Homo sapiens: one gene and its partners. The protein of the gene in region 2 purifies or fractionates together with the protein of the main gene of each other region. This does not show direct contact. Each region holds a gene or a part of one and is shown on either strand. Other genes may lie near its edges.

Region 1 (10,495 bases), on a different chromosome or scaffold from region 2:
TGGTTTTTTGTTCTTGCGATAGTTTACTGAGAATGATGATTTCCAATTTCATCCATGTCCCTACAAAGGATATGAACTCATCATTTTTTATGGCTGCATAGTATTCCATGGTGTATATGTGCCACATTTTCTTAATCCAGTCTATCATTGTTGGACATTTGGGTTGGTTCCAAGACTTTGCTATTGTGAATAATGCCGCAATAAACATACATGTACATGTGTCTTTATAGCAGCATGATTTATAGTCCTTTGGGTATATACCCAGTAATGGGATGGCTGGGTCAAATGGTATTTGTAGTTCTAGATCCCTGAGGAATCGCCACACTGACTTCCACAATGGTTGAACTAGTTTACAGTCCCACCAACAGTGTAAAAATGTTCCTATTTCTCCACATCCTCTCCAGCACCTGTTGTTTCCTGACTTTGTAATGATTGCCATTCTAACTGGTGTGAAATGGTATCTCATTGTGGTTTTGATTTGCATTTCTCTGATGGCCAGTGATGGTGAGCATTTATTCATGTCTTCTTTTGAGAAGTGTCTGTTCATGTCCTTTGCCCACTTTTTGATGGGGTTGTTTGTTTTTTTCTTGTAAATTTGTTTGAGTTCATTGTAGATTCTGGATATTAGCCCTTTGTCAGATGAGTAGGTTGCGAAAATGTTCTCCCATTTTGTAGGCTGCCTGTTCACTCTGATGGTAGTTTCTTTTGCTGTGCAGAAGCTCTTTAGTTTAATTAGATCCCATTTGTCAATTTTGGCTTTTGTTGCCATTGCTTTTGGTGTTTTAGACATGAAGTCCTTGCCCATGCCTGTGTCCTGAATGGTAATGCCTAGGTTTTCTTCTAGGGTTTTTATGGTTTTAGGTCTAACGTTTAAGTCTTTAATCCATCTTGAATTGATTTTTGTACAAGGTGTAAGGAAGAGATCCAGTTTCAGCTTTCTACATATGGCTAGCCAGTTTTCCCAGCACCATTTATTAAATAGGGAATCCTTTCCCCATTGCTTGTTTTTCTCAGGTTTGTCAAAGATCAGATAGTTGTAGATATGCGGCGTTATTTCTGAGGGCTCTGTTCTGTTCCATTGATCTATATCTCTGTTTTGGTACCAGTACCATGCTGTTTTGGTTACTGTAGCCTTGTAGTATAGTTTGAAGTCAGGTAGTGTGATGCCTCCAGCTTTGTTCTTTTGGCTCAGAATTGACTCGCTCTGTCACCCAGGCTGGGAGTGCAGTGTGGCGATCTCAGCTCACTGCAAGCTCCGCCTCCTGGGTTCACGCCATTCTCCTGCCTCAGCCTCCCAAGTAGCTAGGACTACAGGCACCCGCCATCACGCTTGGCTAATTGTTTTTGTATTTTTTAGTAGAGACGGGGTTTCACCATGTTAGCCAGGATGGTCTCGATCTCCTGACCTCGTGATCCACCCACCTCGGCCTCCCAAAGTGCTGGGATTACAGGTGTGAGCCACCGCACCTGGCCCTCAGTCATCTTTCTAAATATTTGAAACAGCGGAGCCTGGATAACAACCTTGGTTAACAGATTCATACATTAAATATGCTGAGTGCAGTGTACTCAAATTCCCTCATTGAGCATAAAGCTCAGCCCATGGTTTACACCACCCCTTTCCAGAGTGTTAGTGACCTGTCTGTGGGGCCACTGTGGACCTCTGGCATTTCCCTAGATTGCAGAACTGATTAGAAGATGGTCAAAAACCAATAAACAGTACAAAACAGGCCGGGCGCGGTGGCTCACGCCTATAATCCCAGTACTTTGGGAGGCCGAGACGGGTGAATTACCTGAGGTCAGGAGTCTGAGACCAGCCTGACCAGCATGGTGAAACCCCCCTCTCTACTAAAAATACAAAATCTAGCCAGGCATGGTGGCGCACGTCTGTAATCCCAGCTATTCAAGAGGGTGGGGCAGGAGAATCACTTGAACCTGGGAGGCAAAAGTTGCACTGAGCCAAGATGGCGCCATTGCACTCCAGCCTGGGTGACAAGAGCGAGATTCCGCCTCAAAAAAAAACAAACAAAACAAAACAAGTGAGTAGGGTAATAGGTTAGCTGAGATGCAGTCAGAATTCAGGTTTACTTAACAGATCACAAATCCTGTTTCAGGGGAGGAGAAACAACATTAAGGGATTTGAAAACCTCTTCCATCACTTACTGGTGAGGTGATCTTGAGCAAGCTACTCACCTTCTCTAAGCCTCGATTTCCTCATCTGTGAAATGGAAAGAAAAACAGAACTTGTCCCACAGAGCTGATGAGAAGATTAAATGAGTAATGCACATTATGGGCCTTGCCAGAGTCCTTGGAAAATGCTAGTTGCCGTTTTGATAATCTGAAAGTGGTATGCCACCACAATAGGCCCTGCTTTGAAACATAGTGGGTATTAATCTGTATTTGTTTATCTCATATCTTTCTGTGGTGGTCACTAGAAAGGACCTCATAGATGCCCCAAGCTGCAGGAAGCATAACCGACCCAGGGCTCCAGATAGCCCTGCAGAGGCCATGCCTCCGGGAGGATGATCCCACCAATGACCGAGCAGAGTACCGTGGACTCCTGACAGCAGATGCCCTCCAGAACTGCCCAGCAGCACTGCTGGATCTTCCTGGGACTACAGGGCTGTCTGAGATATGCCCTTCTACCCTTCCCTCTCTCTCCCCTTCACTCTAGGTCACACTGGCATCACAGTCTGATGCTCTCTCTGGCTAGCACTCCCCGTTTTTCCCTCCCACAAGCATTTACCCCAGTAAAAAATCTTAACATGTTTAATCCTGTTTTAGCTTCTGCTTCTCTGAAGACCCGAACTAACACACTACTTTCTCATGTTTTTTTGTATTTCCAACAGTGGGAAACTTACACTTGTCCTATGAGTTCTGGACTGTTTGTTCAGCTACTTACAAACGCCATTTCGTTACAGCAGCCACGGGGAAGCAGTGGATGAGAAGCAGGAATAATATAGGCCATTGTGAGTAAGGCTGCTATAAACATGTGAGCCACTGAAATCTGATACTTTTTCAGGGATCCATAGTTTCTGGTTCTTTCTGGTCAAGAGAGGCTAAAGGAAAGGTTTTTAAAGATATTAATTTTCTTAGTCAAGTAACTTAACCTCTCAAGGCCTCAGTGTCCTAGACTAGCACAGAACAAGCAGATGAAACAAAGTTTATATCAGAATGTCAACTGAAAAAGTATCATTTACCATAAATGGAAGATAATTGTATTAAATTCTAGTTAGATGCTAAAACTTCAAGAACTTTTAGAGTCTGTACCTGCATTCTGTTAAAAATATAGATTAAAAAATGCTAACATGTTAACACAAAGGACTTTCCAGAAAGACTTAAAGAAAAGTGAAAGGGGAATAACTGTCTTGCAATGTAATTCATTGTCGTTTAAGACTGGGTCTATGGAACACCCTAAATCACCTGGTTCCATCACGTTCTTTTTAACATGGAGATGGATAGTTTTTCCCCATACTCTATATATTGAGCATTCTATAGTTCATGATTTTTCTGCATAGAGAATTGTTCAAGCCGGGGGTGCAGGCTCACCGACTGGATAGTGAATCAAGAAAATAGTGTGTTCATTAGTTCATCATTACCCTGAGTTTCCAACAAGAATTTAGTACAGGAAAGTAGACAGCGGAGCTGGGAGCCATCTATTTGAAACTGTCTTAAGCAAAACTAAGAAACCGAGTAAGCTTGCTTTTGGTGTCTTTCATCCCTTCTTGTGTGCCCCCTAATTATTCACTCCCCAATGCCCAGACATTATGATGCCTTCTCCTGCTCAGAGACCTTTCTGGGAGGAAGACCTACTCAGACCTGGTATTCCCTCATCCTAGGCTCTACCCTATTTTTCATCCAGCTGTTAAAGCTGAGTGACTAATTTCACACTTATGTACGAATGACCCATAACTGGCTTAATGCTGTGACCATCTTGGGGGTATTCAAAGCTGATAAACACTTTTTTAAGTTATATAATAATCAAAGAAGCTTATCTTTCTGCTTTATTTCAAATTTCACCCCACAGGCCTTACTTATTTTTAAGATCAATGATTTTGATGGGCCCCCCCTTCCCACTCTTAATTCAGGGTATTTCTGGCCCCATCCGGATCCAAACTCTAATGCTCATCTCTTCCATACTGTCCTTTGCAGGTCATCGGTATTGCAAGAGTTGCATAAGGCCCAATTCAGTCTCTGCCCCAAAAGCTCAAGTCCAAACTTCAGAATCTGGGAGGACAAGGATTCAGGAAATTTTGTCAGAACTATGAGCTTTGAACTTTCACTTTTATGGTGAGGGTCACATTTGGTCTGAATCAATTAATCCATTACCCGCCCCCCCCCCCCCCCCCACCACCACCATGTGTGAATTCAAAATAATCAACTTGGGTTTATTATAAAAAACAAAATATATTAATATAAGTATACTAAGATTTTTCTAGAAAACTTGGCCGGGCGCGGTGGCTCACGCCTGTAATCCCAGCACTTTGGGAGACCGAGGAGGGCGGATCACAAGGTCAGGAGATCGAGACCATCCTGGCTAACACGGTGAAACCCCATCTGTACTAAAAATACAAAAAATTAGCCGGGCGTGGTGGCGGGCGCCTGTAGTCCCAGCTACTCGGGAGGCTGAGGCGGGAGAATGGCGTGAACCCGGGAGGCGGAGCTTGCAGTGAGCCCAGATCGCGCCACTGCACTCTGCCTGGGTAACAGAGTGAGACCCTGTCTCAAAAAACAACAAACAAATAAACTTAGAAGAATATATGTGACTATTGGCCGGGCGCGGTGGCTCACGCCTGTAATCCCAGCCCTTTGGGAGGCCGAGGCGGGCAGATCACGAGGTCAGGAGATAGAGACCATCCTGGCTAACATGGTGAAACCCTGTCTCTACTAAAAATAAAAAAATAAAAAATAAAAAATGCGAGGTGGCGGGCGCCTGTAGTCCCAGCTATTCAGGAGGCTGAAGCAGGAGAATGGCGTGAACCCGGGAGGCGGAGCTTGCAGTGAGCCGAGATCGCGCCACTGCACTCCAGCCTGGGCAACAGAGTGAGACTCCGTCTCAAAAAAAAAAAAAAAAGAAGAAGAAGAAAGAAAAAGAAAAGAAAAAGGAAAAAGAAAACTTAATTCTGGCAATGGACTGTTTCTAAAATAATATATTAATACTACTTAATGAGGAAGAAAAAACCTCTGACATCCTAAAATGCCAAGTGTTTGCCTTTACCAAGGTTTAAGCACACATAAACACGCATATTCAAATACCACCCAAAGTGGAGGTGCAAAGATCAGCCTGTACCGCACAGTAACACAGACTGGGTTGTTTTTTGTAAAGAAGGCAACTAGTCCAGTGAGTAATCCCTTCATTTTCCACACACATACCCTTCTGTTTTCTCCCTCTCCTCCCCCCACACCCTCCACTGCAGTTAAAACGTAATTCGAAGAAGCCTAAGGTAAAAGCCCCTGCCGCATAATGACCCTAGAGCTTCACCTCACCTACTCTGATTCTTAGTAACCTACCTCTAAGGATGAGAGACAGGGTGCTACGAGCGGGGCGAACTTTGGTCCAGGAGTTAAGAAACCTGAACCCTGGAGTCCTCAAAAAAAATGAATGAAAATAACAGAGGCGCCCTGAGGATCCAAGCTGGGGCGGTGCCAAGGGCTGGCAAGTGAGGTTGGGACAACAGAAGTCAAACGTGCCGTCCTTCCAGATCCCGGCGCTTATGGCGGAAGCCACTCCAGGTGAGAAATCCTAACAGTCATAATGGCATAACAAATAAACATCGGCAAAACAGCAGTCTGCCAACGACGTGCTTCCCTACACAGACGTCCTCCTGTCTCCACACTCTAGAGGGGAGAGGCGGAACAAATGCTGCCTCCGCAGATTTTGGAAATCCGGAAGGGAGCCTCCGAGCCCAGGTCCCGGGCTGGCAGGGGTCTCGCCGGCGCTTGGACCTCGTCTCCCACCCCCGAGCCCACTGCGGCCCCAGAGCCTCGGGAGGGGCCGGGCACTTCCTCTGCCCTCCGGCCTGGGGCAGGGGCCGGGACGCGGTGGGAGTGCAGCGGGGACGGCACCGCCCGAGGGGGCGGGCCCCAAACTTTCGTGCGCGTTGAAAGCTGCTGGCGCGGCGGGGCGGACTCCACCCCTGCCCGGCAGCCCAGCGCCTCCGGCCGCACTTCCAGCTCTCTGCGCAGCCCGCCGCGCAGCCCGCCGCCCCAGCCATGGCGAAGCCCCTGACGGACCAGGAGAAGCGGCGGCAGATCAGCATCCGCGGCATCGTGGGCGTGGAGAACGTGGCAGAGCTGAAGAAGAGTTTCAACCGGCACCTGCACTTCACGCTGGTCAAGGACCGCAACGTGGCCACCACCCGCGACTACTACTTCGCGCTGGCGCACACGGTGCGCGACCACCTGGTGGGGCGCTGGATCCGCACGCAGCAGCACTACTACGACAAGTGCCCCAAGGTAACCGGGGGCGGGACGGCGGGCCGGGGTCCAGCCCGGAGTCGGAGTCTCCGGCCGCGGCCGGGCGGGACGAGGTGGAGAACCCCTCAGAGTGGTCCCTTGCACCCGGTCCTTGCCCCGAAGTCCAGAGGAGACGTGTCTAGGCTGTGGGCGGGCAGCCTGGGGGACAGATTAGGCCTCCCAACAGACGCCGAACTCATGTCTCCGAGGTGCCACCCGCCAGTGTCCCGCCCAAACCACTGTGCCGTCCGCCCCTGGAAACCGCCAGGTGGGCAAAAGCCCAGGCCCCTCTCGCCTGTCCACTTCACAAACTTTTTTGGAACTTTGACTCTCAGCATTTAATCAAGAGGTGACGGGGGCCTCTTGTCCTGTATGCCGGACACTATTCTCTGCCCTGGACACTCAGCCCTAAACAAAAGGGACAAAAATCTTGCCTTGCTGGAGCTTGGTATTTTGGGAGGGGAGACAAACGCCGAGCTGGGAAAAGGTCGTAAGTCTCAGGCCTCTGGGAGTGGCTAAGTGTGGTGCAGAGGAGGGGCAGGGTCCCGCTCCAAGCGTAGAGCGCCGCCCACCCATTCTCCTGAGTGGGTGTAGCTCCTGGAATTCCGTGAGTCTTTCGCAAAGGCGGCCCAGGGCCAGGCAATGCCCTGGACTCGTCCTCCCCGAAGACACACACTCCCCCGACCCTTAGCCCTTCCACACCCGAGGCCTGCCCCCAGAGCTGCTGAGGAAGGCTGGTCAGGGACCACCTCCATCCACGGCGTGGGGGCGGGAGCAGAGACCTCCTTAGGGTGATTTTGGACCTACAGAGGGACAATATCTCTGCCTGACAGTTTGCGAAGAGGGCGAGAGGCAGTGGGGAAGGACTGGGGAGGACATGGCAGGGAGAGGGATTGTGTGCAGGCTGGAGTGAGGGCGGGTGTGAGTCTGTATTGGGAGAGGAAACTGGAGAAGCCAGGTAGAGACATATTGGAAAGAATAAAAGATTGGGATACATCCCAGGGGCAGTGGGAAATATATATAAACATTTATTAGAACTTTTTAATTATGTAAAGGTGTGAAGAAAAAAAAATGGTCTATAATCCCAGTGCCCAAGAAACCCCATAGGAATTTTTAAGAAAGGAAATGAATGTAAATTCTCATAGTAAGAAATTGCAACTGTAACAGTTTTCAAATGGAAAGTAACTCTTCTTCACCCCAAAGACCTAGGCCTCCACCAAGGTAGCAACTGCTAAAATGTATCCTTAAAAATTTAAATGCACCTTAGAAAACACTTTATGTATACATATATTTACTGTTTTGTTGTTTTGTTTTGTTTTGTTTTGTTTTGTTTTGTTTGAGACAGAGTCTCACTCTCGCCCAGGCTGAATGAAGTGCAGCGGCGCCATCTTGGCTCACTGCATCCTTCGCCTCCAGGGTTGAAGCGATTCTCCTGCCTCAGACTCTCGAGTAGCTGGGACTACAGGCTCCTACCACTACACCTGGCTAAGTTTGTATTTTTAGTAGAGACAAGGTTTCACCATGTTGGCCAGGCTGCTCTCAAACTCCTGGCCTCAAATGATCCTCCTTCCTTGGCCTCCCAAAGTGCTGGGATTACAGGTGTGAGCCACCACACTCGGCCACTATCTTTTAAAAATTTATTTACACAAAGGGAATGCTACTAAGTACACCATACTGCGCCTCTCATTAAAAATTATTTTTAACAATTTTAAGCGGAAGGGTGGGACACTGAGCATATATTAGAAACACACACTCACGCCTCTGTAGCATTTAGCATCATAGAGCACCAGAGAATCTTGTATGTTTTTCCTTCAGTGGCTTATGCAGTGCTTTATGGTTTTCCTGGTTCTCCGGCCAGTTTCTTCACTGGGCTCTCCTTTTCTACGTGAGTGCAGATATAAGCCAGGAATTCCGACGTGTGTAAATTCTGATAGCGATACACTGGGGATACAACAATGAACATGTTTCATTCCACACGTGTTCATCAAATATCTACTCCATCACAGTCGTCTGTCTAAACAGGATGGTTCCTGCCCTCATAAAGTAGAGCAAGTAGGTGTGTCCAAGCTCCTCTCCCACCTCCCTTGCTCTCCAATAACTGTGCAGATGAATCCCAAATATGGATCCCTAGTCTGAATTCCTTTTCTAACTCTATGCGTACATTTCTGAGTGTTTAGTGAACATATCTAGATATCTTCCTATTTCCTCAAACTCAGTACGTTAAAAACTCAAACCATTATTTCTCCCAATCCTGCCCCATCTTCCCGTGTTTTGTTTTGTTTTGTGACAGAGTCTCACTCTGTCACCCATGTTGGAGTGCAATGATGCAATCTCGGCTCACTGCAACCTCTGCCTCTCGGGTTCAAGTGATTCTCCTGCCTTAGCCTCCTGAGTAGCTGGGATTACAGGTGCATGCCACCATGCCCAGCTACTTTTTGTATTTTTAGTAGCGACAGGATTCCACCATTTGGACAGGCTGGTCTCGAACTCCTGACCTGGTGATCCACCCACCTCGGCCTCCCAAAGTGCTGGGATTACAGGCATGAGCCACCACGACTGGCCTCTGTGTTTTTTGTTTTCATGCCATTGTCATCTTGACAATCCAGACGCAAACTTTAGTCTCACTTTTTGCCGTTCAACTGTTTGCCAATTTCTGTTGATTTCTATAGGTTCCCTTGAATGACGTGCTCTCCTCCATTATCTCTTCCTGCCTTGGTGAGGCTCTAGCTACCCATTTGTTGCAGCTGACTTCACGTGGTTATTTTGCTTTCCAGAAGTGGTAAAACCGGCAGCCTGAGGCTGAATAAGGATAGCAGACATACTTTGTTGGCCAAGACATTTTTCAGGAATTTAATTTTTAGCGCCTGTGGTCAGGACTTGCACACTCCATTTCTTAGCCCAGTACTCTTCTTTGTTTTATGTGACCTCAATTACACATTTATTTTCTCTGCCTAGCTCCTGAAGGCATTTGAGTATATGATCCCGTCTCATTCTGTGCATTGTGGTCTGCTCAAGCTTCCTAAAGCAACGCATCTTGCCCCTGCTCAATTATCATTGGCTCCTCTTGCCTGCCATAGAACTTAAGCAAGTATTCGAAAGCACTTCTCAGTCCAGGTGGGCCTGTTCTTCCCTTGTTATCTTCCATTACCCTCTGTACCCACCTTGCTCTCCCAACAAACCAATCCCCACTCTGGGCCCCCGATTCACTTGCAGTGTCCTTCCTACCACATTTCTATGCTCAACTCTTGCCTGTCCTGCAAGTCTCAGGTTTATTGACAGGTGTTCCAGAGGTCTTCCCGGAAGTACCCAGGCCCTCTGACTAATGCTGGGGATAAAAATAAAACATACAATTTAAAAATATTTGTTATATCTTCTTTATTTTATTTTACAAGCCTTTTGAAAATATCCACTTTTTACATAAAATACTAGTAATCATAGTACATGCATGTAATTTATAAAGTATATTGGAGATGCTCATATATTTTACTATCAGTCATATGTAACAAATATTTAGAGACCAGTAAGTAAGAGTATGGCCAAGATCTATTTTTTGAAGTCTTATATATTCCCAAATATAAGGAGAGATTACCTCTAAGAAGTTATTTGTGAGAAAACAGGGAATCACCTTACGTTCCTGTCCTTATAAAGTCTGTCATGCAAGGAAGTATTTTCTCATTTACTTTATTCTGAGCAACCACATATCTCTCAAGAGAGACTTTGAAATATTTTTAAGAAGACTTAAGTTCGTGCTAATGTGGAATCATTAAAAAGGAGGCAAATTTAATACAGATGTAGTCATTATTCCTGGGGGTATAACCTCACAATTGCAAGTGTGGAATATATACTATATAAACAAGCTTTTTGTAGATTACTTAAAAGAAAAAGGCAAAACATCATGGTTATAGAGATAATGAAAATACACACATGGAAGGATTTTTTTAAACTGGGTAATACTATGCAAATGGGTATTTGTGGCTTAAGATACTATTACCTGTGACAGCGGTCATCACGTACTAGAGCACCAGCCATTGCCTATGTCTGC
Region 2 (10,391 bases):
TCTTACACAGATGAGTTTCCCTCTCAAAAATAAGGTAGACCCTTAAAATGGCACAGCTGTAACTTCATGAATTCAAAAATGTCATGAGTCAAATAAAGTCCTCCCAAACATATGCCCAACGGTGGTCAGAACCTAATCAAATGGGGATCCCCATCGTCTGCTCCAGACAGGCAGATGTGTGCATCACAAAAGCACAGCCTTCACTCTGTTCCTACCCAGTTGCCTCACCAGCCATCTCAGGGTATGGACCCGATCAACGACACCTTTGTCTCATTCCCCAAAGTCTACGGCCCTTCTTTTGTGTACACCTTTTTTCGCTAAAGATGCACATCTGAGTATCCAAGACAATTTTTATCCTTCCCCAGACACACAGAATTCCTGCAAAAACACATACTGGCACCCCCTTCACAAGAGCCAGAATATCCACCCCTCCTATCCACCTCGCTAGTTTTCTCCCAGTTACGTTACTCCAGGCCAAAGTGCATGTGCACGCACCTGCATGCATACCCACCCCCCCAACACACACTCAGGTTAGCTTTACACTCGTAGCCCAGAAAACATCAAAGATGAACAAACACTCCCAGTCCATCTCTTCCTTGATCATGACTTCACCATTCTCCAGCTCCACATAACAGGTCTCATTCCAGCTATGAAGGAGGCTCTGTGTACTCTTAGAAACTCAATCCTTAGAGGGATCTGGACCTGCATTCTGACCTGAAGTGCAGCACCCTCCAATTCCCAGCCCACACCCCACACAAGAAACAACAACACCGTCCAGCTCCCTTCCCAATACACAAAAGTCTACATCATCCCTCTCTTTATGCCCCACTTTTTACAAAACCAGAGATATATTTCAAGTCAGCTTCCCTTTGGCCCCCAAGATCCATAAACATCTCTAGAAACTGAATTATAGACCTTGAAGAAACCTCAACAAGCGTCGAGCTCTGTCTATTTCTGGCAAAATTGCATCAGTTTTACTGAGCCTGGAGAAGGAATTTTTCCAGGGCAGTGTGCCATGCCCCAGTACCCAGCAATGGGCTGAGCATCCAGTAGGCACTCCATTAGCTTTAATTGATTATCAATATGAACTGGTGATAGTGAATTCTCCTATTACATAAGAAACCCATTACAAAACATTATACAACATGCATCCCTGACACCAGGCACAGATAGTGCATTCCTCTACTTACTTCAGTCTTATGCACACATCTCTTCCTGTTCCCACCCAGTGCCAATGCACAAGGACTTTTCCCCTTAAATGTACATCCCTCATTCTAAGCCTCCTCCAATTCTCTTCTCTCTGGGGAGGAAGGAGGGGGGAGGCAAACACCAACACCAACCCGGTGTCCTTCCCTGCAAATGCTTTGTCTTTCCATAAAGAGGATCTGAGCTCACACTTTTCTACCCCCTACATGCCCCAGTGCCATTCCAGCCAAATTTCCCAGTGCACCCTCATGAAGTTCAAACCCCGTGCTCCTCAGATAATCTTCCCCCACCCCCCACACACATCCCTTTGGTAATCCTCAGGCGCCCAACCTTCCACATGCATCCACCTTTCCCTCACACACACAGCCGCCCTCCTACACCACACCCACTCCATGTGTTTGTGCAGGCATGCACAAGCCATCTGTCTTCAACAGGCTGCACCTCTCCTCCTGCTCTGACACCCTTCATAGGCACAGATTTCGCATTAGCTACACCTATGTTCCTGCAAGCTCTTGTCTCCCGCTAAGCACACAGATGCCCATCCGACAGACTCCCCAGAAACACACACCTCCCAGGCACCAAAGAGGGATAGGACTCCAGCTCTTTTGCCACCTTCCCCTACACACACACACACACACACACACACACACACACTTTGGAAAAACATCCCCATCCCTCCCTGACCACTCACTCAATGGTCACAATCTCACTCCATAGATAAGCATATCCCATTCACACACAACCAAACCCTCTAAGTCCAGCTACACTCCAGTCCTCACCAACACAAAATCCCACACACTCTCCCTAGGGGAAATACCCCAGACTTTCTATCTCCCTTCAACACTGTCTACCGGAGCCTGCATTATTTTCCAACCCCCTTACCTCCTAACACGATACCTAAGTCTGTGTGTTTGCGCCCAAGGCAGAGGGGGTTGGAGTTTATCCTCCACATTCTACCTTTCAGCTTTCTTTGTGTGACATGTCAAAAAGGAATTGAGGGCAGGCGGGAGGCAGGCTGAGTACGCTGGAGAACTTCTGAGTGTTGTGAAAACAGGACCTCTGGAAAAGTCTCCTCTATGTTACAACTTTCTCCCATCCTGACGTTTAGGACAGAGCGCTTCCATGTTCTCCTCGTTCGCTGTTTTGCGGGGTAGGAGCGGGCACCTCTTTATTTAAAAAGCAGGTCGCTCAGTGCACTCCATAATCAGCTGAGTTACAAACATCAGGCTCCAGGAGAAACACCCACCCCTTCCAGGCTCCCCTCCCCTCTCAGCAGGCCCTCGCCCCCGCCTCTTCACACACATAAACAAGTCCACAGGCGCACAGTCTCCCGAGCTCTCTAGCTCTGAGCCCGGCGCTCCCGGGAGCAACCTCCATTCGGACTCAGAACCTGCCGCCCGCCGCCAGAGGCCGAGGCCAGACGATCTTTTCGGTGTTTCCCCCACCGGCAATCCCACCCCAGCCTCGATTCCAGCAAAAGGGATCCTTTCTAGTCCACAGCCCCGACACCGTCGGACGCAAGGGTCTCAGTGCCGTGCATCTGAAGCGCAGACGACGAATGAACGCAGCAGCCAAACTCCCGCAAAGAAGCAGCGCCTCCTGGACGCGCACCCACTCCCGCGGAGAGCAACAAGCAGAATCCTACTCCCCCATCCCATGCCCTCGGCCCTCGCCCCTCCTGTCCCTAACCTTCAACTCCCAAGCGTCCCAAATTTCATCAGGAGCATCCACCACTGAGTAAAGCTCTGGGGCAATGGGACAGTTCGGTCCGTCGTGGGACCTTTAAACTCCGACCTGGCTGGCTGCGCGGGTGCCCAGGTCTCCCGGCCTCCCACGCCACCGCTCAAAGTCCGAGAACAGGCTGGACGATACCGCAAGGAGATCCCCTGGGATGGCCGGGCCCGGGTGCCCGCCGCTCCCCGGAGGGGTCCCAGATGTGCGGGCTGCGTACGGAGCTCCAACATCTGCGCAAAGGCCCAGGGTGGGGTGGCCACCGGGTGGGCGCTGGCCAAGAGGAGCCCGGGGCGCGAGGTCTTTTCTGAAAAAACCCTTTCGGGGAACTCCAACGCAGGTACGCGGCGCGTGGCAGTGAGTCCCAACTCCCAAAACTGGAACGCGAGGTTCCGGGTCCTGAGCTGCGCGTCCCCTCCCCCCAGCCCACGCCCGGGCCAGAGTGGTGCTGGGGCGAGCTGAGAATCAGGCTCAGCGGCCGGCAGAGTGCAGGGCGTGTGCAGGGGAGCTGCCGCGGCACCTCCCCGCCCGGAGTTCTGTCTGCCACCCCCTTTTGTTATAGGATGCGCTAGGAGCTTTCTCGGAGGAGCAGGCGGGTCGGTTGGGAGTGGTGGGTGGTTGATTCTGTTGAATCTCTTTCCTGCTCTTTCGTCGTCCCCATTTCCCCTCTTCTGCCCCCACCCTTTCCAATCCAGGTCCCTTAAACCTGATCACTTTCCCAGATTGAGGGAAGCTTCTTGGGCAGCCGAGGGACAAGAGGGGAGGAGGTGGAGAAGGGTGTCCGTGTCTGTGTGTGTGTGTGTGTGTGTGTGTGTGTGTGTGTGTGTGTGTGTGTGTGTAGCGGGGTGGCTGCGGTTGCGCTTCGGCCTGAGCAGATCCCAGCGCAAACTTTGGGGAAGACACAAGCCCGGGAAAGTGAGTGAGCGCGGCGCGATGGGGGTGGGGCGGGATGCGGATCTGGGGCCCCCCGCACCAGTCCACTGGAAAATCCCTCCCCACGTGGACCCCCATCCCCAAACCTGCCCACCCAAGGTGCCCGCCGCCTCCCCTTACCGTGGCAAAAGTAACCATGGCATCCGTGTGGCCGTTTCCAGGGACGTCGACATGAAGAGAAAGGTGGACGCGAGCTCGGTCATTCAAAGTCTCCCCCACCCCGCCGCAGCCACTACCCAGCAGGGGAAAAAGGAGAGGAAGAAAGAAAGGAGAGAGAAGAAAGTAGTTGCGCCGGGCTGCGTCGCGGGGCGGTGCGCGGAGCTGTTCGGAAGGGAGAGGAGCTTCAACTCTGAGTCCCGTGAACAGAATCTGCGCGGTTATAACCAGCCAACCCGGCCAGATGGCTCCGCGCTCAGCGCCTTAACCCCTTCCGCGCCGCGCCGCCCTCCCCCGCCGGCCCGCGCCGCGCCGCGCGCGCCCGCGCCCCAGAGCCCCCCCCCCGCCCTCACTTCGGGACCCGTGGCGGGGAAGGGGTCATTTCTCCTGGCCCCTCTTGAAAAACAAAACCAAACCAAACAACAACAGCAACAAAAACTTCCAAATCTGTAGTATTCTTCAGTAACCCCCACCCTTGAGTTCCCTTTTAGAGATCCAGGAAAAAACGAAACGTTAAATGTATCGTAACAGGTTACATGTTAGTGTCTTCAGCCTTTCTTAGTGGTTCTTTTTCTTGAAATTTTTCTTTTTGATCTTTTTTCTTTCAAGATTTTCTTTACAAGGCATCAGGGCCTTTTCCTGCCTTTTTCCTCAGGAGGATCAGGTCTGAGGCGTAAACTCCTCCTCCAAACCTTAGACCCTTCCAGCTCCAGATCTCTCCCCACCCCCTACCAAGCCCACCCGCCACTCCTCCCCCCACCCCACAGCACGAACACGCCCAAGGACAATCGCTCCCCGGCGAACTCCCCGCTCCCGGGGACCCGCACCCAGGACGCTGTGTCGGCGGTCAAGGGAGGTCAAGGTAGAGGGGCGTGGGGGCGGGTGGTCCGAGGGACTAGGGAGGGGCTGTGTGTGCGCGCGCGTGTTTGCGGGAGCTTGAGTGTGGAAGGGAGAGGGAGATGGATCGCAGCCTCCCATTTCACCCATCCTCCAACTTCTAAACCCCTTCCTTCCAAACTAGGATGGGGCCCTGCAGCTAATCACTCGCCCAGCACCCACCAGTCTGCACGCGGGGACAGCGCGAGAAGCAGGAAAGGCGAGCAACAAACAAACCTGTTCGTGGCGCCCCGAAAGTAATGACGCTCACTTCCCCACCGGTGGATACATTCGAGGAGAGGATAGGGGGAGGGGGTCAAAATCTCTTATTTGGAGATAATTTTAGCTGCCCGTTAGACCTCACTTGCTCCGAGCCGTTCTCTCTAAATTTACCAAGTTAAGTCATCTTGATTTCGCCCATTTGCCATCGAGAGAAGGGGGAAAAATACCACTTAGTGATCAACGAGAAATCGAGAGCCCGGAAGCAGAGTTTTGCCCACTTGCCCGCTTCCCGAGTCCTTGCGTGGTGGACCTCCGCTCCAAGCCCCTCATCCCTTCCTCCCTGCCACTTCAGCCGCTCCTCACATCATCTCCTGCCAGGACCTTTTGACTCACGCGCGACTGGGAAGGGCAGCGAGTATCCCGTTTCCTCCCTGCCCTGTCGTTCGAGGTGTCTAATAAGCAAGCCGTTCCGCGTTTCGGTTAGGGCCCAGGTTCAAAAAATCCAAATACCTTGAAATTGCTTGAGAATTTGGTTAAACATCGGAACTGCACCCACCAGTTCAGGACCAACCGGCCGCAGAGAGTAGCTGGGGGGTTGGATGGGGAGGTGGGAAGGGAGGGGGGAGTCTGGGGGCTGCGTACTAGATAGATTGTACCTGCCTCATCATTATCCTGGCTGATGGGGGTTGCCACATCGAAAACCGCCAGAAGCGCCCACCGAGGCCCAGGGGCGTCACCTCCTGCGGTCCCTCGCAAGGGTAGGGTAGTCCTTCAGTGGCTCCCCTCGTGCCAAAATATCGACGTCTTCCTCAGGGCCAGAAGAGGCTGCCGAGTCGTTCCCTCCACCCAGCCACACAGCACCATGAAGGTTTGGATTGGGCGTGCTCTGTCGGGTTCTGCTTTTCTCCCTCTCATCTGGCCCGCCTCCCTGCCCTCCCCCACTTCCCGCACTTGCCCCCCTCCTCCAGCTTCTCGCCCTGGTCAAAGGAGGGATTCAGGCCCCAGTTTCAGATCCACTGGCAGAGTTCTTTTCTCAAGCTCCAGGTCCTCTGGGAACCTGAAGATTGCAAGGAAAGAGGTGGTTGGCTCCTGCTGCAGCAGGGAAGGGGTTAAATACATGTGCGGGCTGATCTGCAGGCAGCTCCCAGGTCCCTGGCAGTCTGGAGGGAGGAGGGGAAGGGGGGCAAACAAACTTGAAAAATCAGAAGAAAGGAAGGAGAAGAAAAGGCAGCAAGCAGTGCGTTTAGGACTTGGATTTGTTCTGCAGATGCCTTGCACTGGCTGGCCGCGTCATTTTGCCGGGACTTTCGGGGATCCCAGAGTTTGTCTTATTTCCAACTCCAAGGGGTTTTGTCCTAAGCTGGTGGGTCTGTCTTTGCTTGCAATCAACAGGCCTTGTAATATGAGAGGTGACACCTTAATCTTGCCAAATATGTGCTGTGTCTTTGTGGAGAGAGGGGAGGAGGGACTGAGGGAAGGAGGGAGGAAGAGGGAGAGACCCAGACAGGAGCAGAGGGTGAAAGATGCACTTTTTCTCAGAAGGATTGGTTTCCCAAAGGGAGAGCCTTAGCCCTTTTCTGAGTAGAAGACCTCTTTCAGACAGTCTACCTTGAGCACCGCCAACTGCCTTTTCCTTTACTGTTTTTCTTTAGACTTCAGACCTAAAGATTTCTTCCCTCTAAGACTAGGGACTGACCCCCCAGCTCGCTGTTGTGGCTTCCAAGGGAGTGGCAAGGTGCTGAATGAAGAAGGTGGGAAGAAAAAAAGAATTAGAAAGGTGTATTTTTAAGAAGACAGAATAAAAAGATCATTCTCTACTATGTAGAGCCATTTTTAAACTAGAATATTGTGACTTCTAAGTAAATCCGTGTTTCTAAATAGAGATTTTTCTTTTCTATAGAAATACCATTGGTATGGATAGCAAAAGCAAAGATCAGGACTGGAAAGTAAGCTGGCTGCGAGCTTGTGCCCTGTACATAGGCCTGGTTAAGGAAGCATCCAGGATGAGATCTTTTAGGATTCACTAGGTAGGTGCTCCTCTCCAAGTTGACTTCGTGGCCATGACTTTGGCTGCCCATCTGTCGACTGTATTTTTAGGTTGCTGAACTTTCTTCTTCTCCCTGCTGCATCTGAGAGTAAGGCCCTGACTCCTGGAAGTGATTTCTGAGAGCAGGAATCAGATCTTGTTTTTGAAAACCCCCTTTAAAACTCTCTCCTAAAGCAAATTTCCAGAGCGTGCCTTCTGGTTACCCTTATCTTTTGCAATAGCACCACTCTGTGGTTGGAACACTGAACAGAAACAAAACGGCAACGTGGGATTGAATTTTGCCTTTATCTTGTGAAAACAGCACTTATCTCCCTATGTTTGAGCTCAGTGGACTGAATGCTGGTGGTGGGGGCTCAGCGTGTGGTGAGGGAGGGGGTCTTGTGCAGTGGCAGTATGTGGTTAATTCATTGTGACATGTTGACCCAGGAAATGAGAGAAGTGGACCGAATGGCCTCCAAGGACCCTTTCCGTGTCAAAGACAAGCTTGTTTTTTTTCCCCATGATCGTGTAGCTAGCCTTGAATGTCTGTCCTCTTCCACTGCTTTTCTTTTTCTCTCTTTTGAGGTTACTAAAATAAACACCACACTTCTCACTGATCCTGAAGTATTTGCAAGTTGCATCTTCTGCTGCTGGAGGGCGCTGTGGGGAGGTCTCGCCCTACCCCCTCCATCCCCACCCCCATCCACCCAGACAGCTGCTAGAGCTGATGGAGTCTGGAAGTCTTCGTTTTTCAAACAATTAAAGTGAATGCAAAAGGTGTTTGCACAGGGACTGGGAGCTTAAGGGTCAGGAAAGGCGGCTTCATGCTACCTTTGTGCCTCCGCACTTGAAAGATTCCTGGCTGCCCACCCGTTTCTATATACTGGCAACAGCATTATTCACCAAGAGCTACAGGCTGTCAAGCCATATAGCAATTCCTCTCAGATGACCTGGAGTCACCTGTGAGACATTCTTCTTTTCTTTCAATTCGCATGCACTTGTCCACAGAAACTGAGTGGCTTGTTTATGTTTATTTAACAAGACCAGGTCTTCCCCCAAATTTCTGTCATTTTAAGAAAGCACAGCTTTGCTCTAAGGACTAGCATTGATCTCTCTACACAGAATACAGACATCAGAGATAAACTTCTATCAGCCCCTATGTCCCCCACTCTGCATTTAATAACTGAGGAAACTCAGAATAACAAAAAACAAAAACAAAAACATAATGACAGACCACGACCTAGAATTTACTGCCAGAGTAGATTTTGGTGCCTGAGAAAAGCAGGTTCCCCTCTACCTTCTCCACTCAGTAGCCATGTGCTTTTGTACAGGTTTCTTAACTTCTTAGAACCCATCTGCAATTGGTGAAGACAACACCAATCTCATAGAAGTAATATGAGGACCAAAGGAACTAATTAATTTAAAACATTCAACACAGTGCCTGGCACAATGTGAATGCCAGTCCCGATCTGCTAGTCCTTACACAGGAAACACTGTCACACCACTGGGGGAATGAGCTATCTTTAGAAAGAAGCTTGGCTCTGGAATGGCCTGTGTATTATTATTTGTATGCCACTACACATTTCATTAATGTAATTTTATGGATGTATATTTTCCCCTTTGGACAAATACAGAAATAAATCAGCAGAATGAAGTAGTGGACATATTTAGAATTTATATAGCTTCCCAACGTGGACCTCAATGTGCATGAAAGACAGAATTGAAGGATTTCAAAATCTCGTCTTATTCATTCTCTGCCTTTCACCCAGAACCACCTCATCATTTAAAAGGAAATTCCACCATATCCTTCAACTCTTAACAGATTGCCTGGTATATTATTGGTTTGTTGTTATTGCTAATTATGTTCTAGGGCTTACATTGAACAATATAATGAATTGCATTGAACAACGGTGAATCAACTTATTCTGTGACATGGCATACATATTCATAATTACGTTTCAAGAAATTACCCGTAATGATAGAGGGAAGGTATGTATTCCTACCACACAGGTGGATGTAGAAATCATAATAAAGTCTCCTATTTCACCAGTCATGACATGAATTCCTAACCACCCTATAAATTAACTTTATGCTGCACCAAACTCCACTCATAAAAAAATGACATTAAGGTTTCCTAGGTAACTAATGCATTTCCAAAGGGAATAGGTCTCAGGAGACAAAGAGGGCAGGGAAAAGGGTGGGGAGGGGAAGTGAAGAAAAGAGAAAAAAACATCCGATGAGACCCACGTGACATAAACAAAATATTTCACGGGGAAGAACCCATAAAGTTTTACTGCCGGGGTCTGACACAGATATGGCATAGCCATTAATTCCATCTTTGGATGATAAAACACTCGATAGACTATCCCTCTCATCACGTATGCTGGCATTTCATATTTCAGATCCAGTTCTACAAATCTTGAGAGGGATTTGACCCTTCCATTCATCTGCTAAGCTGCGTCCACTCAGCAGCCAGCTGACTCTTGTGCCCTCCACCAAATGTTGAGATGAATGTGAAAAACAGGGTTGATTTGCATGTTTCAGAATATACAGATGCTTTTGATCACTGTGGACTCTTAAAATTTTGGAGTGGATCTGTTAGCCTTAGCAGAAGGCTGGGGCCTGAGAATTGAATTATGGGAATGGAGGTTTGGTTTGCAACCCCTCAACTCAGTGGCATTTTCACTGCAGCTTTCTTCATTTGGAGGAGGGTCTGGATGCAAAAGAACATCTTGAATGCTTTGGGCGAAAATGGCAAGTTGTAGGTGGAGCTTAAGGCTGAAATTTACACTGTAGGAACAGAGAAATTCTGACACGCAATGCAATCCAGAGAATTATCCTGGGTTAGAGACAGGGAGATAGGGAAATGAGATCCAGAGTCTTGTCACTGTTTTGTGAGCTCAGGGAAGTAACTAAACTTTTCAGTTTCTTGGTTTTACCATGTGTAAAGGTACTTAACCTCATTTTCTTTCATGACTGTGAATATAAATAAGAAAACAAAGAACACACTAATGTGAATACAGTTAGAAATTTTGTATTATCTGATTTCTTCTATTTTCAGTAGCCCCAGAGTGACATCTGTGAGTGAAGTCTCCAACTGGTTACAAGACACAGCCAGGTGACTCCTATATTCAAAGTGTGGCAAGTTTCCCTGCGAGTCCCATGGCTGACGTGCTCCTACCCATTAGCACTGGGCAGTCAATGTAGAGTAAAGCCTGCCTTTTGCACTTTCCCTGACCTG
Region 3 (10,551 bases), on a different chromosome or scaffold from region 2:
AGGTAACTGCGGCCTCCATAAAATCCCCAACTGAAGGGGATGGAAGAGCTTCCTTCCAGTTCAGTGAATCCTGGAGGTGCTGGGACAGTGGCACCTGCAGAGGGAATGGAAGCCCCTGCACCCTCCCTCAGACCTGCCCTCTGCATATCTTCTATCTGGCTGTTCCTGGGTTGTATTCCTTGTAAGTAATTGGTAAACGCAAGTGAAGTGTTTCCCTGAGTTTCATGAGCCATTCTGGCAAATCATCAAACCTGAGGAGGCTGTCGGTCAGAGGTCAGAAGGGAGGTCCTGATGTGCAACTGACATCTGGGGTGGAGAAGTCTTGTGGGACTGAGCCTTTAGCCTGTGGGATCCGAGGCTACATCTAGGTAGACAGCATCAGAACGGAACTGAATTGTAAGATGCTCAGTCAGTGTGGGAAACACCACCCCCCGACCCCCCCAGAGGGACATCCACGTTACTATCTAGGCACAACAGCCAAGTTGACACATAAAACCAGCCACCACAGCCTGCAAGGGCAGAGGCCAGGCTGTCTTCTGCAGAAAATGAAGGCACACACTGTAGGCTTCTCCATCTGCTAAAATGACAGCTGAGGCCTACCTTCCAAGTGGCTAGCTGTCAGCAACACAAAACAGCACCCACCATCAGCTACTGGTCAGAGAAAATGACTTTGAGCGATCTGCTGTCAGGGAAGCCTGCCCAGGAGATGCAAGCTCAACTTCACACATAAAAGTGGAAATACATCAGAAAAATTGGGAGTGTTAGGATTCCGGAGGCTGGTACCACAACTGACTAATTAAAACAAATCCCAGAAGTGGGGATCACAGAGCAGAAGGGTCTGCAAAACACTTCTCTAGATCATCTTCTTTAACTCCTGGGTCCAGCCAAACCAAAAGATTAATCGTATTTCATTGTGTTTATCTCATTAGGAATATTTAGGACAGCAGTGTGGGCCCCAAGGTAGAGCTGCTTTTCCTTAATCTGTGTTGTAGTCATGCCAGGAGCTTATGGGAAGAGTCTCAAAAACTGATTGTTACATCCACTGCAGGGGTGCTGCAGGTCAGTGGCTCAGCACATCGACAACACAGCTTCACAAAGGCCCACAGAATAAACCGTGCAACTGTCCTTTCAGGATGTTATAGAAGGGATCCCGTGACTCTCATAACTGGGCATGGGCTGCTTTCACTGCCAGGATCCTGGTCTGTGTTTTGTGTCCTGACCCTCACTGTCCCACCCCAACCCTCACTCTGAGGCCTTCTAATGTGAACCTTTTGTGCTGTATCTAGCATAAGCATCCTCAAATTCTCTCTGGATAGAGATGGAATGTCAATTCAATATGAAATAGAAACATTTTAACTCTAACATTTCAGAATGGCAACAGACTTCGGAAACATCACCAGCTTGATTCCCCTCATTTTAAAGATGAGAAAACTGAGGCCAATAATGGCAAAGAAATCCGCCCAAGCCCACAGTTGCACAGACCGAATGGAAAGGCCAGGATGAAAAGGAGCGTGGAATCACGCACACCCTTTCTTCTCCATGCAGCGCAATCCCAGGCTCTGCAGCTTCAGGTTGGACTCTCCTTGCCACCTTGCCACCACTTCAGAGAATCCATTAAATGTCTTCATGACCAACCGCCACCTCTTGCCAAGCACAAAGCTCTCCATGTTAGCCAGATGTTTTGACGTGCTGATTTGCCAAGCATGGCAAAGCTTGACAAATCTTCCTCTGAACACCCCAACTTCTACTCTTTCGCTATGTACCACAAATAAAGTGCTAAGAGTTATGAAACAATAGGTTCAGTATAATGTTATTTTATGTATTAAAAACAAGTTTCTGCCAATACGGAAAAAACAATGTAGAACACAAAATATTTACAGCACAAAGTGGGCGATAGAAGTGGGTTACAGGATTACAGTTAATTTTTTTCCTTCTGGCTTATCTATATTTTCTAATTTTTCCTCCAGTAATAATTTTTCCTTCAGGACTTGCATAATTTAAAAAAAGACAAAAATAACAATAAAAGCGTTCTATTTAGGAGCTCTAGAGTGTCACATTACCACAGTCTGCAGTGTGCCGGTGAATGTCTGAGGTCATTTCTGGCTGAGGGGGAGGCACAGCAGTTATTTTCTTGGGAGCACACCTCCTCTCATTGGCTCTGGTGGGACTGGTTGCTGGTCCATCACCAGCAAGCATGTAACTTTTCCAAAGAAAGGATTGCAAGCTTATTTTCATCATGAATTAGCGAAAGAAGCAGTTAAATCCCAATTTTCCATGTCCTTCCTATTCAGAATAGGCACACAGCTTATTTACACACTGTGAGATCTAAAAGTTTACAACTTTACGACTTACAGACTGTGCGGTTTAAGAGAAAGGTTTCCACCCAGAGCCACCACACGTAGACAATCAAAAGAGATCTCACGGAGGATCAAAAAACCTGTTTTGTTGCAGGGACTATCTTGTTCATGAAGGTCATTTCCGTAATCCCTGAGCCCATCGCTGGCCTCTCCAGGATGTGATTATACATAAATACTCCAATGGGCACCCTAAGGTGTAGAGCTGAGTCCTGGTCCAGCTCCAAGGAAATGCCCTTGAATGTGAAGGCAGAGCTATGTCCTTGCCATCCGCCACTTAGACAATAAAAATGATGTTGCGGGTCGGGTGCGTTGGCTCACGCCTGTAACTCCTGCACTTTGGGAGGCCGAGGCGGGCGGATCACGAGGTCAGGAGTTTGAGACCAGCCTGGCCAACATGGTGAAACCCCGTCTCTACTAAAGATACAAAAAATTAGCCGGGCGTGGTGGTAGGCGCCTGTAATCCCAGCTACTTGGGAGGCTAAGGCAGGAGAATTGCTTGAACCCGGGAGGCGGAGGTTGCACTGAGCCGAGATCGCGCCACTGCACTCTAGCTTCACGCTACAGGGCAAGACTCAGAATTAAAAAAAAAAAAAAAATGGTGCTGTGCATCAGAACTCTCCCAACAGCAGGGAATTCTGGGGGAGCCACTGCTTCTTGGCTGCTTTTCCTGGCAAAGTCATCCCAAGCCCTTGTTATAACCTGTTTTGGCCATTCGTTGCCACTTCTATGTTTTGCATACCAAATATGAAGAGCCCCAGTTGGTATTCTAACAAATCTGTCCCTTTTACCATCTCCATTTTAGAAAAAAGAATGTCCCAGAATAAGTTTGGAAAAGCAGTCAATCTCTTAGCAATTACCGTATTAAACATATCTTAATGCCCTACAAAAATATTCTAAAATACCATCCATAAAGCAAGTGCTCACTGCCTAGATGTACACTGCAAGTAAAATCTTTGCCAAGTGGCTTCAGGTCTGGAAGTGTGTCTTTTCCTCACCAGTTCTCCCTCTACGTTAGTGTAGTAGAAAGACAATTCTCCATGGTCAAGAGTTTAAAAGCAAACGACAACAACAAAAAACTGGCAACAGGGGGCTGTGCAAGACTACCATGTACCTATCAAACTGAAAACTACCATCCTATCCATTGACCTGCAAAGCTGTTTATCAGTGAAAAAGTTACAAATGTTTACGAATGAAACAGAAAATCTAAAAAACTGTATGTGCATTATACTTTTTAAAAATGTGTATGTATATTTAGGAATACCAAAAACACAGCAAGAACACAGGCCCATAGTAAACATGGTTAAGAGTAACGGGGACAATCAGTGACTTTGTTTCACTACTCAAACAAATTTTTGCAAGATATAAAAAGTAACAATTAGTAAGATGATCTCTGTCAACTTCAACCCAAGCAAATTTCTCCAAGGGAGGTGTGGGAACCTCTAAGACAGAGCCTTCTTCGAGGGCTCCATCTCCATCTCTGAGCTTCGTACCCCTCCCTGCGTGAAGCAGGCATCTTCAGTGATTTTCTTCTAAGCAGCGTACACAAAAAAAAGTCTCACAATTCCCTGCAGATTACCGAGCTCACCCCATTCCAACCCACAAGGCTGCCCAGGCCTGGTTCCAGTCCCATTTTCTCCCACAGGCTGCTGCAGGAAAACAAAGAGTGGCTGGAGGCAGGGGCGGGGAGCACCGGCTCTGCAGCCAGCGCGGAAGCGCACGGCCAGAAAGAGACCGGGAACGTCCGCCAGGCTCCCGGGCTCAGCATCATCTGCGGGGGACGGCGGACCCCGCCAGGCGCGGGCTCCCAGTGGGGCGGACCCGTGGCCGCGGCCCTGCGCAGGGGACGCCCGGGCCCCGCCGACTGCGGCTTCCAGGCGACTCCCCAGTCGGCTGTGCCTGGCCGCCGGCCGGCTAGGGGCGCAGGTAACGCCCGACGGGCCGCCCCGCAGAGACCCCCGCTGGCGCGGCTCCGGGACCGGCGCCCTCTCAGCGGGCACGGGCGCACAGGGCGGGGCAGCGCCTCACCTTGGGGTCGCGCTCGTAGTAGTGCTGCTGCGTGCGGATCCAGCGGCCCACGAGGTGGTCGCGCACCGTGTGCGCCAGCGCGAAGAAGTAGTCGCGGGGCGTGGCCACATTGCGGTCCTTGACCAGCGTGAAGTGCAAGTGCCGGTTGAAGCTCTTCCGCACCTCGGCCACGTCGCCTAGCCCCGCCAGGCCGCGCACGCTGATCTGCTTCCGCTTCTCGCTGTCCGTCAGCGGCTTCGCCATCGCGCCGGCGGAGGCGGAGGAAAAGAGATGGAGGAGGAAAGCGGCGGCACACGCGAACGCCGGGATGGTGCAGCTGCTCTGGCGCCGCTGCTCTGGCGCCCGGCACTGCGGCTCTGCGGGCGGGATGGACCGCGCCTGCGCGCCGCGCCGGGGCGGGGCCTCGGGGGGCGGGGCGGGGCCTCGGGAGGGCGGGGCGGGCGTCCAGGCTCATAGCTGAGATCTCTGGTGTAGTCCGAGGCGGCAGCGACCTGTCCACGCCACCTGAGCGTGGTGTTTGCCCCCTCGTTGGGCAAGCCCGGCAGAAAGTGGGAGCGACTGGAGGGGGCAAGGGACCCGGGGCCTCGGAGCGTGCCGTCGTGGCCGCTCCTGCCAGCCCGGGGACGGTGCGGGAAGGGGGCCCTGCCCTCCGGCCCTCGGGTTCCTGGGACCGGCCCTCCCGCCCTGCACCGGGTCACCAGGTGCCCCGCGGGAGCGCGCTGGGCTCGGGCTGTGGCCGAGACCTGGTACACGTTCGGGGAAACTGATTACAGCTTGAAAGGCATCCACCAACGCCTGCTGGGCCCGGTCTTCTCTGTCCGGGGCAGGGCGGCTCTGAAAATACCAGCTATTTGCTTGCCACTCCAGGCCGATGACAGACGTGGAGAAAACCAGCTGCCAGCGAGCTGGAGACGCCCGTTCCCGAGGGCGCGAGGCAGCCACAGCCAAATGCCACCACGACCCCGCCTCGGAGGGACCGCAGCCCCCTAGCCCTCGGAGAAACCCTGTTCCCGAAACCACCTGGCAGACGCTGTCCGCTTTGAGATTACAGCAGGGAGAAGGAAACATGCCCGTCTGGCCGGGGAGCTCAGCCACTAACCGAGACTTAGCCTCTGTCATCCCAATCCAGGCTGCAGCTCCAGATAGGGGGCGTCTGCACACAGCTTCCCACACTTGGCCCCGCGGAACACAGTCCTGCTGGCCTCAGCCTGTGGGAACCCTGCTTCATGTAAAGGTCACCTAAACTCTGCCTTCCCTCAACCCCTTCAAACTCTGCCTTTCCCTTCGTTCTTGGGAGGCGCTCCCTCATTGCAGTGGGTCAGTACACCCGATTTTGTGGACCACAGGTTTGCTCCTGGTGGTCTTGGGCTGAAGGGGCTGCAAAGGTTACTGAATTTCGTGGAGGTAAAAATTGCCCGCAGGAAATGTCATGAAAGTCCAGGTGCAGTAGGTTTCCTGGTGTGATGCTTCAAAGTTATCTTCTTACCTGGAGCCCCTTCCAGCTGCAGACTTCAGAGGTCGGAGGTTAATCAATCTGGAATGACCCCACAGCCCACCCAGCTCCAGCTCGGGATTCACTCCTGCACTATGTCCTAGGGATTCTGGAGCCAACAAGATCGAACTTCGGGCACAGATGGCAGGGCTGTGGGGTCGAGCTTGGCTGCAAGCTCCGAACACTGATGCAATCTCTCTGAGGGTGATCTGGCAATTCAGAAGTCATAAAAATGATAGTGCCCTATGACCACTTCTACCACTCTGGGGAATTGAGTTCAAGGAAAGCTTAAGAAGACAAAAAGCAAGTTATGCAAATATGTTATCTGCTGTGGTGTGGTAAAGTTTAATCCCCCAGCTGTGGTGCACACCTGGCAAAGAATGGAGGCGCTGACACTTATTGATCATTACTTGCAGTGTACACGTATTAACTCCTGATCCCTGCAAATAGCCTGCTATTACCCCCGCTTGACAATGGAGAAGGTGAGCCACAGAGAAGTTAACTCTTCCCTAAGCCCACACAGCTAATAAGGGAAACAGCCAAGGTTCACCCCAGCCAAGCCCTGCTCCACTGCACAAGCCCAGAAAAATGTATCTGTGCTCAAAGTTAATATCATAAACCATTGTGCTGCTAAAAGGAATGACTGTTTTAATAGCTAGCTAGGAAGGTGTGATTGATGACACAATACTGATAAATGAAACACAAAAATAAGGATGTAATGCAGAAATGACAGTAATGATTTGAATATTACTTTCATTTAGTCAATTTAAATTTAAATTAAATAACCACATGTGGCTAGGGACTACTGTGTTAGAAACACAGGTGTATATCCAAACCTAAACACTGGTTATTTCTGAATGGAAGAATTATCAGGGGGGTTATCTTATTTTCTCCATACATTTTGTATTTCCTGTTTTTTCCACAATATTTCTTTTGTAAGTGGAGTAAGTTTTAGTAAGAAAAACTAGAGGCCACAGACTTCACTAATGGATGCTGATTTAAGGCCTATATATTCTCTTACTGGATTGACTTTTAATTCTTTGTTACTCTGGTTAAATAAATTTTAAGTCCTTTCTTTCATAGCTACACTTTATTAAATTTTCCATGATCCTGACAAAAATTCTTTGACCAAACTCTAGTCAGGCTTCTGAGCCTTGTAGGGCCATCATACACTTCCCTGTGACATCTGTTTTAGCAATCCCTGCTTTGTCAATTTAGCAGGATTCCCTGCCCCTGATGTCTGATCCCCCTTGGTGACATCTGATCAGGCTCCCCATGCTCCACCATCCCCCATGCTGTCCAATCACCCTGGCCTGCCTTCAACAGGAATCCTATGAGGTGGTTTAGACACAATCACCTGGACCCCTGAAGTGTCCTCTTAGTAACTGTCCATCCACTGACCCCTCCCCCAGTCCTTGGCTATAAATGCCCACTTGCCCATGCTGTTTTCGGAGTTGAGCCCAATCTCTCTCCCCTGCTGCAAGATCCCGTTGCAGTGGTCCCTGTACCTATCATGATGGTTGTGAATAAAGTCTGGTACCATGCTTTAACAAATGCTATTGATTATTTTTTTTCTTTAACAGTTATCTTACCCAGATGTCATTTCCTCTTCCTGGGAGCTGCCATGGTCCTTCCCCTCTCCTGCAGCACTTAGTCCAATACTGAATCTTCATGATGTGACTCTTCATAATGCGCATGGTTGACGCAGGAAGGAGCCCTCTCACCATCATGTCTCCTCACCTCCTCTGGCCGCTAATATTGCTGAAGTGGCTAAATGAGTCCCAGTATTAATTATCTCAGCCATTTTCAGGTAATTTATTTATTTATTTATTATTAATGTTTTTGAGATGGAGTCTTGCTCTGTCACCCAGGCTGGAGTGCAGTGGTGCAATCTCCGCTCACTGCAACCTCCGCCTCCTGGGTTCAAGCAATTCTCCTGCCTCAGCCTCCCATGTAGCTGGGATTATAGGCACTCACTACCATGCCCAGCTAATTTTTGTATTTTTAGTGGAGACAGGATTTCACCATGTTTCTGGGCTGGTCTTTAACTCCTGACCTCAGGTGATCCGCCCGCCTCAGCCCCCCAAAGTGCTGGGATTACAGGCGTAAGCCACCGCACCTGGCCATCATTTTCAAATAAATAATTTTTAGATAGTTTTAAGTGTTGTAAAGAAAAGCAGGTTGAGCTGTTAGTTACAGGAGGTGATATCTCAGCTGAGACTAAAAAAAAAAAATGAAAGAATGGACCAGGTGCAGTGGCTCACACCTGTAATCTCAGCACTTTGGGAGGCCAGGGTGGGTGGATCACTTGAAGTCACGAGTTCAAGACCGGCCTGGCCAACATGATGAAACCCCGTCTCTACCAAAAATACAAAAGTTAGCTGGGCGTGGTGGCGCATGCCTGTAATCCCAGCACTTGGGAGTCTGAGGTATGAGAATCGCTTGAACCCGGAGGTGGAGGTTGCAGTGAGCCGAGATTGCAGTCTGGGCGACAGGGCAAGACTCCATCTAAAAAAAAAAAAAGGCATGAATGAATCTGGGGGAATAGCAAATGCAAAGGTCCTGAGGTGGGCATCCACTTGGACAGTTCACAAAAGAGGCATCTGAGGGGCATTGGGATACACCACCCCAAAATATGCCTCTTCGCATGTGGATTATTTTGAATTAAAGGCCATTAAGAACCAGCAGACCACAGGAAAGGCTCTAAAAACCATTTTCATTTTGTAAAAAAAATTCACATTTATTATAAAGGAAATTTCCACGTCTCCCTCTTCCATGCAAGGAAGAGGATATCTTGTAACAACTCTTATCAGTGGAAGAAAGTACTGACTTAAGTCTGCATAACAAACCTTCCTAAACAACCCTTGTTTACCATACTTTTCCTGGGCACCTTCTGCTGAGGTTTGAATATACCCTCCAAAACTCATGTTGAAATTTAATTGCCATTGTATAAGAGGTAGGACTGTTCAGAGGTGATTAGGCCATGAGGCCTCCACCCTCAAGGATAGATTAATGCCATTGTGGGAGTGGGTTGTTATAAAAATGAGTTTGACCCTCTCTTGTTCTGTCTCTTTCACCCTCTCTTGTACTTCCACCCTCCTTCCATGGGACAATGTAGCATAAAGGCCCTCACCAGATGCCAATGCCATGCTCTTGGACTTCCCAGTCTTCAGAACCATGAGCCAGATAAGCCACTTTTCTTTATAAATTACACAGTCTGTGGCATTCTGTTACAGCAGCACAAATAGACCAAGACACCTTCCCACTACATGCCTCCCCTGCCCAGAAGCTCCAGGCCTTTTCCTTTATGTCAGCCTAAGATGATAGATGAACCCAAGTCCTGACCACACTTTGGGTTATTCATTGCCAGGTACTGCCACATGTAAGTGCAATGCACATGCCAATAAACTTGTTTTTTTCTTGCCTGATTGAATTGTCTTTGGCTGGTGTAATTAGAGGCCCCCTAGCTGGAGACCCTAACATGGGCTGGGGAAAAGATTTTTTTCCTTCTGTAAATAACCAAGAGTTGGATTCAGCTTCATCTTCCATTTTAGCAACAAAACTGCCAGGCTTCAGAACAGGCAAAATGGAAAGAAATTGGGCTATGCTTTTATTTTATATAAAGCTGAAAAGCAGTTTTGCCCTTCTAAGAGAAAGGATTGTTCTGGCAGCCTGGATCAGAGCAGTGATCAGGCCAGAGCATCTGCTAACCTCAGCATCAGGGAATCCCTGTTTTAGACTGTCCTCTACGTCTCTGTCTTCTCCTTTTGGGAGGTAATTTTTAAAAAATCACTAAGAAGGGATGGATGCTGGTTCTGGTTTCGTTACTGTTGTAGGGAGCTATTCTGTGTTGCTGGAGATAATACATTACCTTTAAAGTTCTTTTATCTTTTTGTTTTTGAGACAGGGTTTCATGGTGTTGCCCAGGCTGGAATGCCATGGTGTGATCACGGCTCACTGCAGCCTCGATCTCCCAGGCTCAGGTTATCCTCCCACCCCAGCCTCCCAAGTAGTTGGAACTACAGGTGCATGCCACCACGCCCAGCTAATTTTTGTATTTATTATAGAGATGAGCTTTCTCTATGTTGCCTAGGCTGGTCTTGAACTCATAGGCTCAAGCCATCCACCCAACTCGGTCTCCCTAAAGTGTTGGGATTACAGGCATGAGCCACTGTGCCCAGCCTGAAGTTCTTTAAATAGGTATTTAAGATTCTGTCTGTAGCAAGTCCCCTGTCATCTGCCTCAGAAAAAGAGATGAAAGATGTCTTGTGAATGGAAGAAGATGCTGTGGGACTTAGAAGCGGGGTGTGGAAAACAGACATTTTTGGTCGGCTAGGCTTAAGCTTCTTGAGGACCTGAAGAGTGTCTCATTGATCGCTGGTGAAATGAGTGACTCAGAAGCACCGCCGGCCCTTGAGACCGCAGGTGCGGAGGGAAAATCTCTCTGGGATCCCAGCAACGCCACTGGCAGATCTGTGCTGGTCAATTTCGTGTTTGCAAATGAACACAGACCCAGGCTTTCAGGAAACAGAGATAAATAACAAATGCATTATTTTTGAGAGGCTGGTAATTATAAAGCTCGAGGGAATAAAGAGCCCACCAGCTGGAATGACACTGTGGAACTGATGCCCTCCCTCCACTGGGGTGTGTCAACAGATATTCTTAGTGACATTAATG

Evidence for each region.
Region 1: the proteins of NTF3 (region 2) and PYGL purify together in Homo sapiens (affinity purification with mass spectrometry; 2 studies listed by BioGRID and IntAct, with this or other methods). This does not show direct contact.
Region 3: the proteins of NTF3 (region 2) and PYGB purify together in Homo sapiens (affinity purification with mass spectrometry; 2 studies listed by BioGRID and IntAct, with this or other methods). This does not show direct contact.

Annotation. Positions count from the first base shown.
Region 1 is NC_000014.9:50,940,119-50,950,613, reverse strand, and holds the start of PYGL (glycogen phosphorylase, liver form), read left to right. Parts: upstream 1-6,130; 5' UTR 6,131-6,210; coding exon 6,211-6,453; intron 6,454-8,023; exon of another isoform or gene 8,024-8,509; intron 8,510-9,408; exon of another isoform or gene 9,409-9,813; intron 9,814-10,495. UniProt on the Homo sapiens protein: Allosteric enzyme that catalyzes the rate-limiting step in glycogen catabolism, the phosphorolytic cleavage of glycogen to produce glucose-1-phosphate, and plays a central role in maintaining cellular and organismal glucose homeostasis.
Region 2 is NC_000012.12:5,425,942-5,436,332, reverse strand, and holds the start of NTF3 (neurotrophin-3 isoform 1 preproprotein), read right to left. Parts: upstream 4,226-10,391; 5' UTR 4,009-4,225; coding exon 3,991-4,008; intron 3,065-3,990; exon of another isoform or gene 3,001-3,064; intron 1-3,000. UniProt on the Homo sapiens protein: Seems to promote the survival of visceral and proprioceptive sensory neurons.
Region 3 is NC_000020.11:25,242,253-25,252,803, reverse strand, and holds the start of PYGB (glycogen phosphorylase, brain form), read right to left. Parts: upstream 4,720-10,551; 5' UTR 4,626-4,719; coding exon 4,383-4,625; intron 1-4,382. UniProt on the Homo sapiens protein: Glycogen phosphorylase that regulates glycogen mobilization. Phosphorylase is an important allosteric enzyme in carbohydrate metabolism. Enzymes from different sources differ in their regulatory mechanisms and in their natural substrates.